Linked DNA regions of Homo sapiens: region 1 is linked to region 2. Evidence: fine-mapped expression QTL. Tissue or cell type: lung. Region 2 holds a variant in brackets; the other region holds the start of a gene. All regions are shown on one strand. Distances are from middle to middle.

The links. PIP is the estimated chance that this variant, and not a neighbour inherited with it, causes the effect.
Region 1: it holds the start of PMM1, and the variant in region 2 is fine-mapped to the expression of PMM1 in lung (TOPMed, PIP above 0.99).

The regions. Positions count from the first base shown.
Region 1 is chr22:41,586,018-41,594,017 of GRCh38, reverse strand. It overlaps PMM1 (phosphomannomutase 1), which reads left to right and starts at 4,178. Exons shown (of 8, transcript NM_002676.3): 1 at 4,178-4,299; 2 at 7,825-7,942. The coding sequence starts at 4,213. RefSeq lists a silencer at 3,830-3,979 and an enhancer at 4,374-5,053.
Region 2 is chr22:41,541,082-41,549,341 of GRCh38, reverse strand. It overlaps POLR3H (RNA polymerase III subunit H), which reads left to right and starts at 4,872. Exons shown (of 6, transcript NM_001018050.4): 1 at 4,872-5,351. The coding sequence starts at 5,241. RefSeq lists silencers at 4,682-4,781, 4,972-5,101 and enhancers at 5,152-5,241, 5,252-5,351, 4,674-5,511. The variant T/C (reference allele first, on the strand shown) is at 4,474.

The sequences.
Region 1 (8,000 bases), 45 kb before region 2:
TAGACATAAAGGTTCTCCAAGTCCCCACCAGACTCAGGAGCCCAGTTGGCTTCACCCAGTGCATCTTGTACCGGGGCTGCAGGTGGAGCTGCCTGCCAGTCCCGCGCCGTGCGCCCGTACTCCTCAACCCTTGGGTGGTCGATGGGACTGGGCGCCATGGAGCAGGGGGCGGCGCTCGCCGGGGAGGCTCTGTCTGCGCAGGAGCCCACGGCAGAGGGTAGGCTCAGGCATGGCGGGCTGCAGGTCCGATCCCTGCCCAGCGGGGAGGCAGCTAAGGCCCTGTGAGAAATCGAGCGCAGCGCCGGTGGGCCGGCACTGCTGGGGGACCCGGCGCACCCTCCACAGCTGCTGGCCCGGCTGCTAAGCCCTTCACTGCTCGGGCCGGCACGGCCTGCCGCTCTGAGTGCGGGGCCCGCCAAGCCCACGCCCACCCAGAACTCTAGCTGGCCCGCAAGCGCCGCTTGCAGCCCCGGTTCCCGCCCGTGCCTCTCCCTCCACACCTCCCCGCAAGCCGAGGGAGCCGGCGCCGGCCTCGGCCAGCCCAGAGAAGGGCTCCCACAGTGCAGCGGCGGGCTGAAGGGCTCCTCAAGCACGGCCAGAATGGGCGCCGAGGCTGAGGAGGCACCAAGAGTGAGCGAGGGCTGCTAGTACGCTGTCACCTCTCATCACCTTTCATAGTTCTATCACGTGGGGTTTATATCCTCATTACATATAAAGAAACTGAAGCCCAGTGAGGAAAGGTGACCTGTCCAAGTCCTTGTAGTTAGCCAGGACCAAACTGCAGTTCTCCTGATTCCAACTCCAATGATCTCTCCAGGACACCATAGCTACCCAGTCAGAAAAACAAGAATTGTGCCTGGGGATCTGGTGCGGTGGGTCAGGCCTGTAATCCCAACACTTTGGTCACGCCTGTAATCCCAACACTTTGGGAGGCTGAGTCGTGAGGACCATTTGAGGCCAGGAGTTTGAGAGCAGCCTGGACAAAATAGTGAGACCCTATTCTACACACACACGTGCACACGCACACAAACACAATGCAGATTTTCATGGCTTCGTAGCATTTCATCTTCTAGATGGGTCTTAGTTCATTTAAACAATTCCATATATTTTTCCTTTTTTCTATTTTCTTTTCTTTCTTTTTTTTTTGAGACGGAGTCTGCTCTGTTGCCCAGGCTGGAGTGCAGTGGCGTGATCTCGGTTCACTGCAAGCTCCGCCTCCCAGGTTCACACCATTCTCCTGCCTCAGCCTCCCAAGTAACTGGGACTATAGGCACCCGCCACCACGCCCAGCTAATTTTTTGTATTGTTAGTAGAGATGGGGTTTCACCGTGTTAGCCAGGATGGTCTCGATCTCCTGACCTCGTGATCCGCCCACCTCAGCCTTCCAAAGTGCTGGATTACAGGTGTGAACCACCGCGCTTGGCCTTTTTTTTTTTTTTTCCGAGTCAGAGTCTCGCTCTATGGCCCAGGCTGGAGTGCAGTGGTGTGATCTCGGCTCACTGCAAGCTCCGCCTCCCGGGTTCAAGGGATTCTCCTGCCTCAGCCTCCCGAGTCGCTGGGACTACAGGTGCCGCCACTACGCCTGGCTAATTTTTTGTATTTTTAGTAGAGACGGGGTTTCACCACGTTAGCCAGGATGGTCTCGATCTCTTGACCTTGTGGTCTGCCTGCCTTGGCCTCCCAAAGTGCTGGGATTACAGGCGTGAGCTACCGCGCTCAGCCTCTTTTCCTATTTTCTAAAAGTTGAATTGCTGACTCATATGATCTGCATCTTTTTTTTTTTTTTTCTTGAGACAGGGTCTCACTACTGTTACCCAGGCTGGAGTGCAGTGGGAAGATCTGGTTCGTTGCAGCCTCAGCTTCCTGGTGATTCTCCTACTTTAGCCTCCTGAGGGACCACAGGTGCCTGCCACCATGCCTGGCTAATGTTTTGTATTTTTAGTAGAGACAGCATTTTGCCATGTTGCCCAGGCTGATCTTGACCTCCTGGGTTCAAACAATCCACCCACCTTGGCCTCCCAAAGTGCTGGAATTACAGGTGTGAGCCACCGCATCCAGCTCTACAGTTATTTTTTATTTATTTAGTTAGTTAGTTAGTTAGTTAGTTTGTTTGTTTGAGGTGTAGTCTCCCTCTGTCTCCCAGGCTGGAGCGCAGTGGCATCATCTCGGCTCACTGCAACCACCGCCTTCCAGGTTCAAGTGATTCTTCCGCCTCAGCCTCCCAAGTAGCTGGGATTACAGGCTCCTGCCACCATGCCCGGCTAATTTTTGTATTTTTAGTAGAGACGGACTTTCCCCATGTTGGCCAGGCTGGTCTCAAACTCATGACCTCAGGTGATCTGCCCATCCCGGCCTCCCAAAGTGTTGGGATTACAGGCGTGAGCCACCGCGCCCAGCCTGTTACTTATTTTCATGTGAAAAGCAAACCTACAAAGCAGGTGGTGTTCATCCCATTTTATAGGTGAAGACACAAAGCCTCTGAGAGGTGAAGTGACTTGTCCAAGGTCCCATAGTGGTGGAGCTGGGAAGGCAACCTGGAAGTGACTCCAAAGTCAACGCAATGGTTAAATAATTGTGAATCGAATCTGGGAAGGTTGGCTGGGAACGGTGGCTCATGCCTGTATTCCCAGCACTTTGGGAGGCTGAGGCAGGCAGATCACCTGAGGCCAGGAGTTCGAGACCAGCCTGGCTAACATGGTGAAAATACAAAATTACTACTAAAAATAAAAAATTAGCCGAGCGTGGTAGTGGGTACAAAATAATCCCAGCTACTCGGGAGGCAGAGGTTGTGGTGAGCTGAAATCGTGCCATTGCACTCCAGCCTGGGCAACAAGAGCAAAACTCCGTCTCAGAAAAAAAAAAAAAATTAGCCGGGCGTGGTGGCGCACTTCTGTAGTTTCAGCTACTCAGGAGGCTGAGGCAGGAGAATCACTTGAACCTGGGAGGCGGAGGTTGCAGTGAGCCGAGATCATGCCACTGCACTCCAACCTGAGTAACAGAGTGAGACCCAGTCTCAAAAAATAAATAAATAAATAAATAAATCGCCCTGTGTCAAAAATAAAATAAAATAAACATAAAAGTAAGTAAAAATACAAAAATTAGGTGGGCATGGTGGCACACGCCTGCAGTCCCAGCTACTCGGGAGGCTGAGGCATGAGAACCGCTTGAACCTGGGAGGTGGAGGTTGCAGTGGGCAGAGATCCCGCCACTGCACTCCAGCCTGGGCAGAGCGAGACTCTGTCTCAAAAAAAAAAAAAAAAAAGAAGAATCTGGGAAGGTCTCCAAGCAGGTAGACCCTGAGAGCTGGGTCTTATGTGTGGACAGAAGGAATAAGGCTCGGGGAAGGCAATTTGGCAAAGTCCAAAGCCTGAACAAAGGCCTTCAGGAGATTTCTTTTCTTTTCTTTTCTTTCCTTTTTTTTTTTTTTTTTTTTTTTTGAGGCTGGAGTGCAATGGCGCGATCTCGGCTCACCGCAACCTCTGGCTTCTTTGGAATCAAGCGATTCTCCTGCCTCAGCCTCCTGAGTAGCTGAGATTACAGGCATGCGCCACCACGCCTGGCTAATTTTGTATTTTTAGTAGAGACGAGGTTTCTCCATGTTGGTCAGGCTGGTCTCGAACTCCCGACCTCCGGTGATCCGCCCGCCTCGACGTCCCAAACTGCTGGGATTACAGGCGTGAACCACCGCGCCCGGCTCAGGAGATTTCCTACAGCTCAAAATTTGTAAGGCAAAGAGATGGCCACAAACCTTGTGAGAGTGGATGGGGAGCGACCTCGGCTCTCTTAGTCCCGCCTGGCCCACTAGACACTGCACTGCATGGTAGAGGCCCCGCCCGACCCAGCCCCTTAATCGGCCTGTTGCAATCACTATCAACCCGCCAATTCTGGCCCCGCCCCTGTCTTCCGGGTTCACCCTCTCACTTCCTGCGGGTCCCAGGCTCAGGCCCCTCCTCCGCCTTGTTTGGAGCAATCCAATCGAACCTGGAGGGCTCCGCTCCGCCCTATGCCGCGCTCCCCTCCTCCACGAGCAATGAGAATCAGCTCAGGCCCCGCCCCCGCTTCCGCCCGCCTAGACCACGCCCCTTCTTCATTTGGCCAATCAGGCAGTCCACTGGCCCCCGCCCCCTAATGCCCCGCCCCGTCAGCACTTATCCCTGAGCTGCTTCTGCCGTTGCATCTTCGGGACTCCGCCCCGCGCGCGGACCTGCAGCCATGGCAGTCACCGCCCAGGCAGCCCGCAGGAAGGAGCGCGTCCTCTGCCTGTTTGACGTGGACGGGACCCTCACGCCGGCTCGCCAGGTAGGACCCTGAAGATTGGAAGCTCCCACCGGGAGTGTCACGCGGACACCCCCGAGGCTGAGTGTGGGGTCTGCAGCAGCGTGACCGTGGACACCCGGGGACCGAGTGTGGGATGCGGCGGTACCCGGCCCCCTGACATCCGGGGCCACCCACCGGGAGTGAGGGGACCTGGCCCTCACGTCACTGACCCCGCAGCGTCCTTGCCTGTGTTCTGCTTGGGAGTGCTGGGGTTGGATCCAGTACTGGAGGGAGGAGGCTGCGAGCAGGGGCCTAGCTCCCTCCCTCCCCGGAGGCTGTCACACGCCGCTAAGGCCTGGCTCACGGACGCCCCCGCCTCCTGAGCTGGGGATCCCACCCTAGTTCAGCCCTACGACACACCAGTGGTCGGAGCTGGCTTCTGAACCGGGGTTCCAGGCACACAAGCACACAGCCAAGCGTCAGTCATCATCTGGTGGGAGACAGGGCGTCTCGGAGTCTTCCCACCCCGACCTTTGCAGGCCTGGGACTGGGTCTAGTTTCTGAAGCCCCATCACCCACTTTACCTTCCACCCCCAGTCGTGGAGCAGAGAGGGCTTCTTTTCAAATTCGTTTATGAGCTCTACCCACCCGGATGTGAGAGGCTCCAGGCCTAGCCTGTTTGCTGTGAGGACACTGAGGAATAGTGAGGGTAAGAGTCTAGTTTTCTTCTAAAGACTCTCGCTGTGTTGAGCCTCTTACCTCTGCTCAGTTTTTCTCCCATTGGGTCTCATTGTGAGTGAGTCCCCAAAAGCCCCCTCACCAGCTGGATGCATCAGTAAGCAGGCTTCATTCATGCCCTCCCTGTGGGTAACCCACCCTCCAGTCTGGGGGCCTCAAGGACCAACCAACAGGTCTCCTAGCGTGGGGGAGCAGTGGGATGGGCTTTACTGGGCAGTGGCTGATGGGAACCCAGGTCTTAGCCTCCTCTCTTAGGTCCCGAATGCCCCTCCCCATCCTCTGTGGTGAAGTTGCCCTGGCTTGGGCCCTGGAGGCCTTCCTGCAGGGGTGGATCCGGGAGGAAGATAGCAGGACTGGAGCAAAGGTGGGCCATTTGCTTGTGGGTCACGCCTGTAATCCCAGCACTTTGGGAGGCCATGGTGGGCAGATCACCTGAGGTCAGGAATTCTAGATCAGTCTGGCTAACATGGTGAAACCCCGTCTCTACTAAAAATACAAAAATTAGGCTGGGTTCAGTGGCTCACGCCTGTAATCCCAGCACTTTGGGAGGCCGAGGCAGACAGATCACGATGTCAGGAGTTTAAGACCAGCCTGACCAATATCGTGAAACCCTATCTCTACTAAAAATACAAAAAATTAGCCAGGCGTGGTGGCATGCACCTGTAATCCTAGCTAGTCGGGAGGCTGAGGCAGGAGAATCACTTGAACCCGAGAGGCAGAAGTTGCAGTGAGCCGAGAATGTGCCATTGCACTACAGCCTGGGCGACAGAGGGAGACTCAGTCTCAAAACAAAACAAAACAAAAAGTAGATGGGCGTGGTGTCGTGTGCCTGTAGTCCCAGCTACTGGGGAGGCAGAGGCAGGAGAATCGATTGAACCCAGGAGGTGGAGGTTGCAGTGAGCCAAGATTGTGCCATTGCACTCCAGCCTGGGCAACAAGAGTGAAACTCCGTCTCAAACAAACAAATAAATGAATAAAAGAACTGGAACAAAAGTGGCAGGGCCTAGGCACAGTTCTGACTCCTCCCTCTGACCTTTTGCTCCACAAACATAACAACCTGAATAAGAACAGCCTATTAATTTGTCTACGGGCCAGCCTCTGTGCTTAGTGCCTTTTGAAAGTTAATTTTTAATCGTACACATTTTCATGAGCACACTCTCCTGGTAAAGAATGGAAACGTAACAGAGAAGGGTAAAGTCCACTCTGACCGCACTTGGGGAGCCTGGCCGGCTCCCCAAGTTAATGTGGTTACTGTGGTGTGGCTTCCCTCCAGGCCTTTATCTGGATCTATTTGCCCAGAGCAAATATTAAGCATTGTTTTGTGAGGCTATTTTTGTTATTGTTCTTTGGCTCCTCAAAAATCAACTTGATTGTGATGCTATTTTGTTGTTGTTGTTGTTAGAGACCGGGGTCTCACTCTGTCACTCAGTCTGGAGTGCAGTGGCGCTATCACAGCTCACTGCAGCCTCGAACTCCTGGGCTCAAGTGATTCTCCCGCCTCAGCTTCTGGAGTAGCTGGTAGCTGGGACTACAGGCAAGTGCCACCATGCCTGGCTAATATCTTTTTTTTTTTTTTTTTTTGGAGATGAAATCTCATTCTTGTCCCCCAGGCTGGAGTGCGATGGCATGATCTCGGTTCACTGCAACCTCCACCTCCCGGGTTCAAGGGATTCTCCTGCCTCAGCCTCCTGAGTAGCTGGGATTACAGGCGCTTGCCACCACGCCCAGCTAATTTTTTTTTCTTTTTTTTTTTGAGACGGAGTCTCGCTCTGTCGCCCAGGCTGGAGTGCAGTGGCGTGATCTCAGCTCACTGCAAGCTCTGCCTCCCAAGTTCACGCCATTCTCCTGCCTCAGCCCTCCCGAGTAGCTGGGACTACAGGCGCGTGCCACCACGCCCGGCTAATTTTTTTGTATTTTTTAGTAGAGACAGGGTTTCACCATGTTAGCCAGGATGGTCTCAATCCCCTGACCTTGTGATCCACCCGCCTCGGCCTCCCAAAGTGCTGGGATTACAGGCGTGAGCCACCGCGCATGGCCAATTTTTTTTTTTTTTTTTTTTTAATTTTTAGTAGAAACAGAGTTTCACCATGTTGGCCAGGCTGGTCTCGAACTCCTGACATCAAGTGATCCACCCTCCTGGGCCTCCCAAAGTGCTGGGATTACTGGTGTGAACCACCGTGCCAGCCCATGCCTGGCTAATTTTTAAAAACTTTCGGCCAGGCACGGTGGCTCACGCCTATAATCCCAGCACTTTGGGAGGCCCAGGCGGATGGATCACCTGAAGTCAGGAGTTCAAGACCAGCCTGGCCAACATGGCGAAACCCTGTCTCTACTAAAAATTTAAAACTTAGCTGGGCATGGTGGCAGGCGCCTGTAATCCCAGCTACTCGGGAGGCTGAGGCAGAAGAATCGCTTGAACCCGGGAGGCAGAGGTTGCAGTGAGCTGAGATCACGCCATCGCACTCCAGCCTGGGCAGAGGTTTCAGTGAGCCAGAATCACACCACTGCACTCCAGCCTGGATGACAGAACAAAAATTCGTCTCCAAAAAAATTTTTTTTTTCATAGAGACAATGTCTTCCTTTGCTGCCTAGGCTCTAGTCTCAAACTCCTGGGTCAAGTGATCTTTCTGCCTTGGCCTCGCAAAGTGTTGGGATTGCAGACCTGAGCCACAGTGTCCAACCTGTCTAATTTTTGGTGTCTAAGCTTTGTACTGCTTCAGATCCAGGTAGAATGTGGGCTTCCTGGGTTCTCAGCACTAAGTGAGGGCTAAGTGGAGGTCCCAGACATGTTGAAAGCCAGAATGCTATGCTTCCCCTCTCCCCCCATAGAAAATTGACCCTGAGGTGGCCGCCTTCCTGCAGAAGCTACGAAGTAGAGTGCAGATCGGTGTGGTGGGCGGCTCTGACTACTGTAAGATCGCTGAGCAGCTGGGTGACGGGGATGAAGGTAGGAGTGAGGCTGGGGGTAGAGGGAGTGGGGAGTTTGAGAGATTCCTGGGCGTCTT
Region 2 (8,260 bases):
ATGGCGCAATCTCGGCTCACTGCAACCTCTGCCTCCCAGGCTCAAGTGATTCTGCCTCAGCCTCCTGAGTAGCTGGAATTACAGGCATGCGCCACCATGCCCAGTTAATTTTGTATTTTTAGTAGAGACAGGGTTTCACCAGGTTGGCCAGGCTGGTCTCGAACTCCTGACTTCTAACGTCATGGCGGGGCACAGCCTGGTGGTCGTGATTAGGGACTCTGGGGCCTGGGTCCCAGGTTTGCCACTTACTGGCTGTATGACCTTGAATGACCTACTTAACCTCTGTTTACCTTAGATGAGGCAAAATGAGACAATTGGGCAAGTGAGATAACGATGATAGCTCCTACTGTATACAGCTGTTCTGAGGATCAAACTTAATGCATATAAAGCACCTAAGTAGTACTTGACATATAGTAAGTGCTCATGAATGTTAGCTGTTAATATAATCATAAGGCCCTCTGATCTGGATGCTGCTTAGGTCTCTAACCTCTTAGCTTACCAGTTGTCATCTCCCATGTAAATCAGCCCGAATATTATTATTTATTTCAGAGACAGAGTCTTGCTCTGTCACCCAGGCTGGAGGGCAGTGGCATGATCAAAGCTCACTGAAGCCTCAAATTCCTGGGCTCAAGCAATCCTCCCAACTAAGCCTCCCAAGTAGCTAGGACTACAGGCAAGTGCCATCACACCCAGCTAATTATTTTATTTTTTTAGTAGAGACAGTATCTCACTTTGTTACCCAGGCTGGTCTCAAACTGACCTTAAGCAATCCTCCTGCCTCGGCCTCCCAAAATGTTGGGATTATAGGCATGAGCCACTGTGCCTGGCTCCAAATACTTTTAATTACCTGAGAGTACAAACTCGCTCTTTCTCTCAGTGCCCACCCTGCTGCCCCCCAACTCCAGCACCAAGTGCTCTGAGTTGAAGCTCGGTTTGAGGCCCAGTTTTTCTTCTGCATTGCATCTCCAACAACTGTACACAACAGTATGTTGAATGAATGCACGAATGAATGAGAACAGCATCACATGTGGGTTCTGTTTTGGGCTGTTCTCACGTTGCTATAAAGAAATACCTGGGCCTGGCGTGGTGGCTCACGCCTGTAATCCCAGCACTTTGGGAGGCCGAGGCAGGCAGATCACCTGAGGTCATGAGTTTGAGACAAGCCTGGTCAACATGGTGAAACCCCGTGTCTACTAAAACTACAAAAATTAGCCAGTCGTGGTGGCATGTGCCTATACTCTCAGCCACTCAGGAGGCTGAGGCAGGAGAATCGCTTGAACTCAGGAGGCGGAGGTTGCGGTGAGCTGAGATGGCACCTCTGCACTCCAACCTGGGTGACACGCACAAAAAAAAAAAGAAAGAAAAAAGAAATACCTGGCTGGTAGTGGTGGCTCATGCCTGTAATCCCAGCACTTTGGGAGGCCGAAGCTGAGGATCACTTGAGGTCAAGAGTTTCAGACCAGCCTGGCCAACATGGCAAAACCTTGTCTCTACTGAAAGTACCAAAATTATCCAGGTGTGGTGGTGCACGCCTGTAATCCCAGCTAGTCTGGAGGCTGAGGCAGAAGAATCGCTTGAAATGGGGAGGTGGAGGTTGCAGTGAGCCCTGATAGCGCCACTGCACTCCAGCCTGGGCAACAGAGCTGGTTAATTTATAAAGAAAATAGGCTGGCTGGGCACGGTGGCTCACGCCTGTAATCCCAGCACTTTGGGAGCCCAAGGCGGGTGGATCATGAGGTGAGGAGATCGAGGCCATCCTGACTAACACGGTGAAACCTCATCTCTACTAAAAATACAAAAAACTAGCTGGGCGTGGTAGCGGGTGCCTGTAGTCCTAGCTACTTGGGAGGCTGAGGCAGGAGAATGGCATGAACCCGGGAGGTGGAGCTTGCAGTGAGCCGAGATCATGCCACTGCACTCCAGCCTGGGCGACAGAGCAAGAATCCGTCTCAAAAAAAAAAAAATAGGTTTAGTTGGCTCATGGTTCCACAGGCTTTACAGCAAGCATGGTACTGGCATAGGCTCAGCTTCCAGGGATGCCTCGGGAAGCTTCCCATGATATCGGAAATCAAAGGAGGAGCAGGCACATCACATGGGGAAAAGAGGAGCAAGAGAGAGAGTGGGAGGAGGGAGGTGCTACACACTTTTTTTTTCAAGATGGAGTTTTGCTCTTGTTGCCGAAGCTGGAGTACAATAGCGCGATCTCTGCTCACCAGAACCGCCACCTCCTGGGTTCAAGCGATTCTTCTGCCTCAGCCTTCCTGAGTAGCTGGGATTACAGGCATGCGCCACCACGCCCGGCTAATTTTGTATTTAGTAGAGACGGGGTTTCTCCATGTTGGTCAGGCTGGTCTTGAACTCCTGACCTCAGGTGATCCGCCCACCTTGGCCTCCCAAAGTGCTGGGATTACAGGCATGAGCCACACGCCTGGCCACCACACACTTTTTTTTTTTGAGACGGAGTCTCACTTTGTCGCCAGGCTGGAGTGCAGTGGTGTGATCTCAGCTCACTGCAACCTCTGCCTCCCGGGTTCAAGTGATTCTTCTGCCTCAGCCTCCCAAGTAGCTGGGACCACAGGCGCGTGCCACCACGCCCGGCTACTTTTTTTTTTTTTTTTTTTTTTTTGTATTTTTAGTAGAGACAGAGTTTCACCGTGTTAGCCAGGATAGTCTCAATCTCCTGACCTTGTGATCCACCCACCTCGGCCTCCCAAAGTGATGGGATTACAGGTGTGAACCACCACGCCTGGCCCCGCCACATACTTTTAAATGACCAGATATTGGCTAGTCACGGTGGCTCATGCCTGTAATCTCAGCACTTTGAGAGGCCAAGATGGGGGGGATCACCTGAGGTCAGGAGTTCGAAACCAGCCTGGCCAACATGGTGAAATCTTATCTAAAAATACAAAAGTTAGCTAAGTGTGGTGGTGGGCACCTGTAATTCCAGCTATTTGGGAAGCTGAGGCAGGAGAATCGCTTGAACCCAGGAGGTGGAGGTTGCATTGAGCTGAGATCATGCCACTGCACTCCAGTCTGGGCGACAGAGCAAGATTCCGTCTCAAAAGAAAAAAAAAAGAAAAGGCCTGAACCGAAGCAATAGCAGTGGGAGTGGAATGAAGAGGAAACATTTGAGAGGAAGAATTAATGGTAATCCCTAAACACCTTTACTCAATGCTTCCTAGGAATGTGTTAGGGGATTGTGGGAATAAAGAGCTGAAGTAGCATTTGCTGCTGTCCTCAAGTACCTCAAATCCTATAGAAGCACACCTAAAAATAAAATCATAGATGCAGGGAAGGCCACATTTAGCATCACTGCAGCCAGTGTCACTGAGAGATCACTATGCTTGTGAAATCAGCAAATTAAGGCACCATACATTTCCAAGTGCCTCTGTCATTTACCCCAAGTATCTTTTGTAAGTACCTAAATTGTTATTTTGGTTAAAACACACTACAAGCCCGGGCGCGGTGGCTCACACCTGTAATCCCAGCACTTTGGAAGGCTGAGGTGGGCAGATCATGAGGTCAGGAGATCGAGACCATCCTGGCTAACACGGTGAAACCTCGTCTCTACTAAAAAAAAATACGAAAAATTAGCCAGGCGTGATGGTGGGCGCCTGTAGTCTCAGCTACTCGGGAGGCTAAGGCAGGAGAATGGCGTGAACCCGAGAGGCGGAGCTTGCAGTGAGCCAAGATCGCGCCACTGCACTCCAGCCTGGGCGACAGAGCGATCCTCCGTCTCAAACAAACAAACAAACAAAAAAACCCACTACAGTATACATCTACACCCCACCAATTTTTAGAGGCAGGGTAGTGAGGTTCAGACTGGGCCCACCTCTACCACTTGTCAACACGTGATCTTGGGTAAGCTACCAAATTCTCTTAGCCCATGCTATCACGTGAAGATGAATGAGACTGGAATGTCAGCGAGACAGAGCATGATGGGGCTATAGGAGGGGGGTATGGTCAGATCTTGCAGGGCCGTGTGAACTACCATAAAGGTTTTGGACTTTTCTTCTTTCTTTCTTCTTTTCTTTCTTCTTTCCCTTTTCTTTCTTCTTTCTTCTTCTTCTTCTCCTTCTTCTTTCTTCTTCTTCCGCCTCTCCTTCTTCTTCTTTTTCGTTTAGACATGAGGTGTCACTGTCACCCATGCTAGAGTGCAGCATGCAACCTCAAACTGCAACCTCAAACTCCTGGACTCAAGCGATGCTGCTGTCTCAGGCTTCTGAGTAGGTGGGACTACGGGTGTACACCACCACGCCCGGCTTGGATCTAGTATTCTAAGTTCAATGGGTTGTGTTTTTTGTTCCAATTTATTATAACTTTTCAATTGGAACATAATGTCTACAAATAAATGCAAAAATCTTGCCGAGTTCAATTAGTTTGGACAATTATATACGTCAATGTTATACCACCGAAAACAAAATACAGAACATTTCCATCATCTCAGAACAGTCCCAAGTGCCCCTTTCCTGC[T/C]AATTCTCCTTGTCTCCGGAACACTTAAGGGTGCTAAGCATGTTATGTTTGCGGTGGGTTTTTTTTTTAACTTAGATGTGGTAATATATGTTTGCGTTTCCAAAGGATCACTCTGGCTGCCGAGCAGAGGACAGCAATGCGGGTAAAGCACAGGCCAGGCGAGGGATAATCAGGCGGGATTGCACGGAGGTCGCCTAGCAACAGAAAGCGCTGTCGGGGGCGGGGGAACCGCTCTGCTCCTGTGAAAGGAGGAGGCCCCGCCCTCTCCTCGCCCTCTCTCTGCCCCACGCTGTGCGCGAGCACACAGGCAGCCCCGCCCCGCCTCGGCGGGGTGGGGGTGGACAGAGGTTTCTTATTGGTGAGTTTTCCGGAAGCGATGGATTCGGAATCTCGCCCGCAGTCGCGCAAGCGCGAGCGGCTGTGCGCGGTGCGTGGTGCGTGGTGCGTGATACGAGCGGCGGCACGTGGCGCGGGTGCGGGGCGTGGAGTGGCGTGGCGTGGAGTGGCGTGGCGTGGCGGGGTCTCGCGGCGCGGGCGCGCACCCGGAGCTGTGGACGGAGAGTGCCTCCCTCTGGCCTCAGTTTCCTCATGTTGTAGTAGCGGAGCATGGCCCGGACCGGGCCCCCGAGACCGCCCCGTGCAACCTCACCGCCAGCCTGGGGGCCTCAGCGACTGGGACGGGACCAAGGGGCTCGGGGATTCTCCCTGCCCCCGGCCCTGGTGCGTGACTGACCCTCCTGTTCCCAGAGCCCCCAGCGCAGGCCGGGATGTTCGTCCTGGTGGAAATGGTGGACACCGTCCGGATCCCCCCTTGGCAGTTTGAGAGGAAGCTCAACGACTCCATTGCCGAGGAGCTGAACAAGAAGTTGGCCAACAAGGTACTGGGCCCACGGCTCGCGGGCAGGCCTTGGCGTGGGAGAGCGAGCGCCGCCCACTGGCCGCAGGCCCGGCCTCGGTCATGCCAAGCCCTGGCCGTGGGCAAGCAGCTTAATGTCTCAGAACTTTTCTTCACCGTGAAAGGAGATATTGAAGGGGATCAAAAGAAAATGGGCTTGAAAAAGGGAGTTGTAACTGGAAGTGTTAGATTCCACAATTCTAAATTACTTTGCAATTGCAGGCAAGTTACTGACCCCTTCTGGGCCTCAGTTTCCATTTTTAAAATGGGGATAAAATATTGCTGTCCTTCCAGCCATGCATTGTTTTTGTTGTTGTTGTTGTTTGTTTTGTTTTGTTTTGTTTTTTGTTTTTGAGACGGAGTCTTGCTCTTTCGTCCAGGCTGGAGTGCAGTGGCGCGATCTCGGCTCACTGCAACCTCCGCCTCCCGGGTTCAAGCGATTCTCCTGCCCCAGCCTCCCGAGTAGCTGGGACAACTACAGGCGCGCGCCACCACCCCCAGCTAATTTTTGTATTTTTCGTAGAGACGGGGTTTCACCATTTTGGCCAGGATGGTCTCGATCTCTTGATCCCCCCGCCTCGGCCTCCCAAAGTGCTGGGATTACAGGTGTGCGCCATCGCCTCGGGTCAATGCATTGTTTTCGTGAAGATGGAGAGTTCTAGTAGTACAGAATTAACTGTCAGGAGGTTCATCCCTTCATTCCAGCAGCCAATATTTGTGCGCCTTCTCTGTGCTGTGCCTGTGTGCCTTAGTACCAGCTGAGAGGTCTTCCCACTGCCGTTTCTTTGACAGTCCTCCCTTTCCAGGTATTCTGTGTCACATCACTCTCTTTCCTTCTTAGACTTTTTCCTTTCCCTCTCCTTGAGAGCAGGGACCTTATCTGCCTTCTTCCCTGAAGTATCCCCTCATTTAGCCAAAGCCTGGCGGGAGTAGATGTCCCATAATTTTCTGTTTTGTGTTTGTGTGTGTGAGACAAGAGTGCCGCTCTTGTCGCCCAGGCTGGGGTGCAATGAAGCGATCTTGGCTCACTGCAACCTCCACCTCCCAGGTTCAAGCTATTCTTCTGCTTCAGCCTCCTGAGTAGCTGGGATTACAGGCACCTGCCACCACACCTGGCTAATTTTTGTACTTTTAGTAGAGACGGGGTTTCACCATGTTGGCCAGGCTGGTCTCAAACTTCTGACCTCAGGTGATCTGCCTGCCTCAGCCTCCCAAAGTGCTGGAATTACAGGTGTGAGCCACCGTGCCCGGCCATTTGTTGACTGAATGAATGAAACAGAGACAAGGCTCTGTGCTATAGTGTGGTGGGAAAGCAGATATGAATGAGAAGGGTCCACAGTTGAGTGTTTGGTGACAAATTGAGGTAAATGTTATGAGGGACAGGTGTTCACACACCTGTGGAACAAAGGAACGTCCCCTGGAATGAGGGGACCTGCAGCTTTGTTGAGGAGGTGGGGTTGAAGGTGAGATCTGATGGTGAAGTGGAGCCAACCAGAGGATTCCTTTCTAGGGTGGGAGGGGGCTGGGTGGAGAGAAGAGCCCTGAAGGCAGGAACTGGCATGTGCAAAGGCCCTGTGAAGAAGGAATACAGGCCGGGCGTGGGGGCTCACACCTGTAATCCCACCACTTTGGGAGGCTGAGGCGGGTGGATCACCCAAGGTCAGGAGTTTGAGACCAGCCTGTCCAACATGGTGAAGCCCCATGTCTACTAAAAATACAAAAAATAGCTGGGCATGGTGGCAGGCACCTGTAATCCCGGCTACTTGGGAGGCAGAGGGAGAAGAATCACTTGAACCCAGGAGGCAGAGGTTGCAGTGAGCTGAAATCGCACCACTGCCTTCCAGCCTGGGTGACAAGAGTGAAACTTCGCTTCAAAAAAAAAAGAAGAAGGGGTAAAATACCCACCATGGTGTGGAAGAGGCTGGTGTGGCTTGGGCAGAGGGGAGGGTGGGCTGGACAGGTGGGTGGGGGCCAGGCCACACAGCCCTGTAGGATGTCGGAGTTGAGGTATTGGTCTTTATCCGTGGAGCATCAGAAGGTGATGGGCTGAGAAGGAGCCAGAAAGAGGATGCTTAGCTGGCTTTACGCATGAGACAGGTCCCTTCAGAAGAGGTGAGGTTGATTTGGGGGTTGCTAGATAGTGAAGGGAACTCATGGAGTCTTTAAGTGGATGGCTTCTGGTTACTTTGTGAGGTTGAAGATGAGGGTCTGTTGGGGGATGGAGGTGTGGACCTTGAGAGAGAAGGTGTGGAAAGTCCAAGAAGGGAATATAGTCCCTTTGGGGTAGAGGTCCTGTTGGGACAAGTCTTCTAGTATTTGATTAGATGAATCGTTTGAGAGGGGGCCCACACAGAAATCCATGGTCTGACAAAGGGCACAGATCTTGTGGCATTATCTTGGTGAGGTCTGGCCACGACTCTGAGTTCTCTGAGCTTCTTGCTAATTCTTGGACAGTTCTTGCAAGGGTTCTAAGTGGGGGTGATGACACGGTGGCAGATAAGGAGACACTGAGTAGCCAGTCGTTTGAACCACAGTGGTGTGGGGTGAGGGCATGGGATTTCTGCACATTCTTGGGGCCTAGGTCTTGTGTCCCTCTGCCAGCTGCAGTCCCTGTGGCTGCGTCTGTGTGTCTGAGATGTTGTGAGCACAGTGGGGTTTAGCTGTGGCTGTGACGCTCACTAAACTGTGAGCTCTGGCATTGGCTTTGGGATGTCGGAGAGTGCACGTTTAGGCAGCATTCCTGTCACTGGTCCTCACTAGTAATAACAAAGATCCTTGATGATGATGGTTTCCAATACACGAGCCAGGTACAAGGCTAGGGGCTTCACATCTGTTATCTCTCTTTATTTTATAACTCTGCAGCCTGGTATTTCACATTTGCAGATGGGGAGA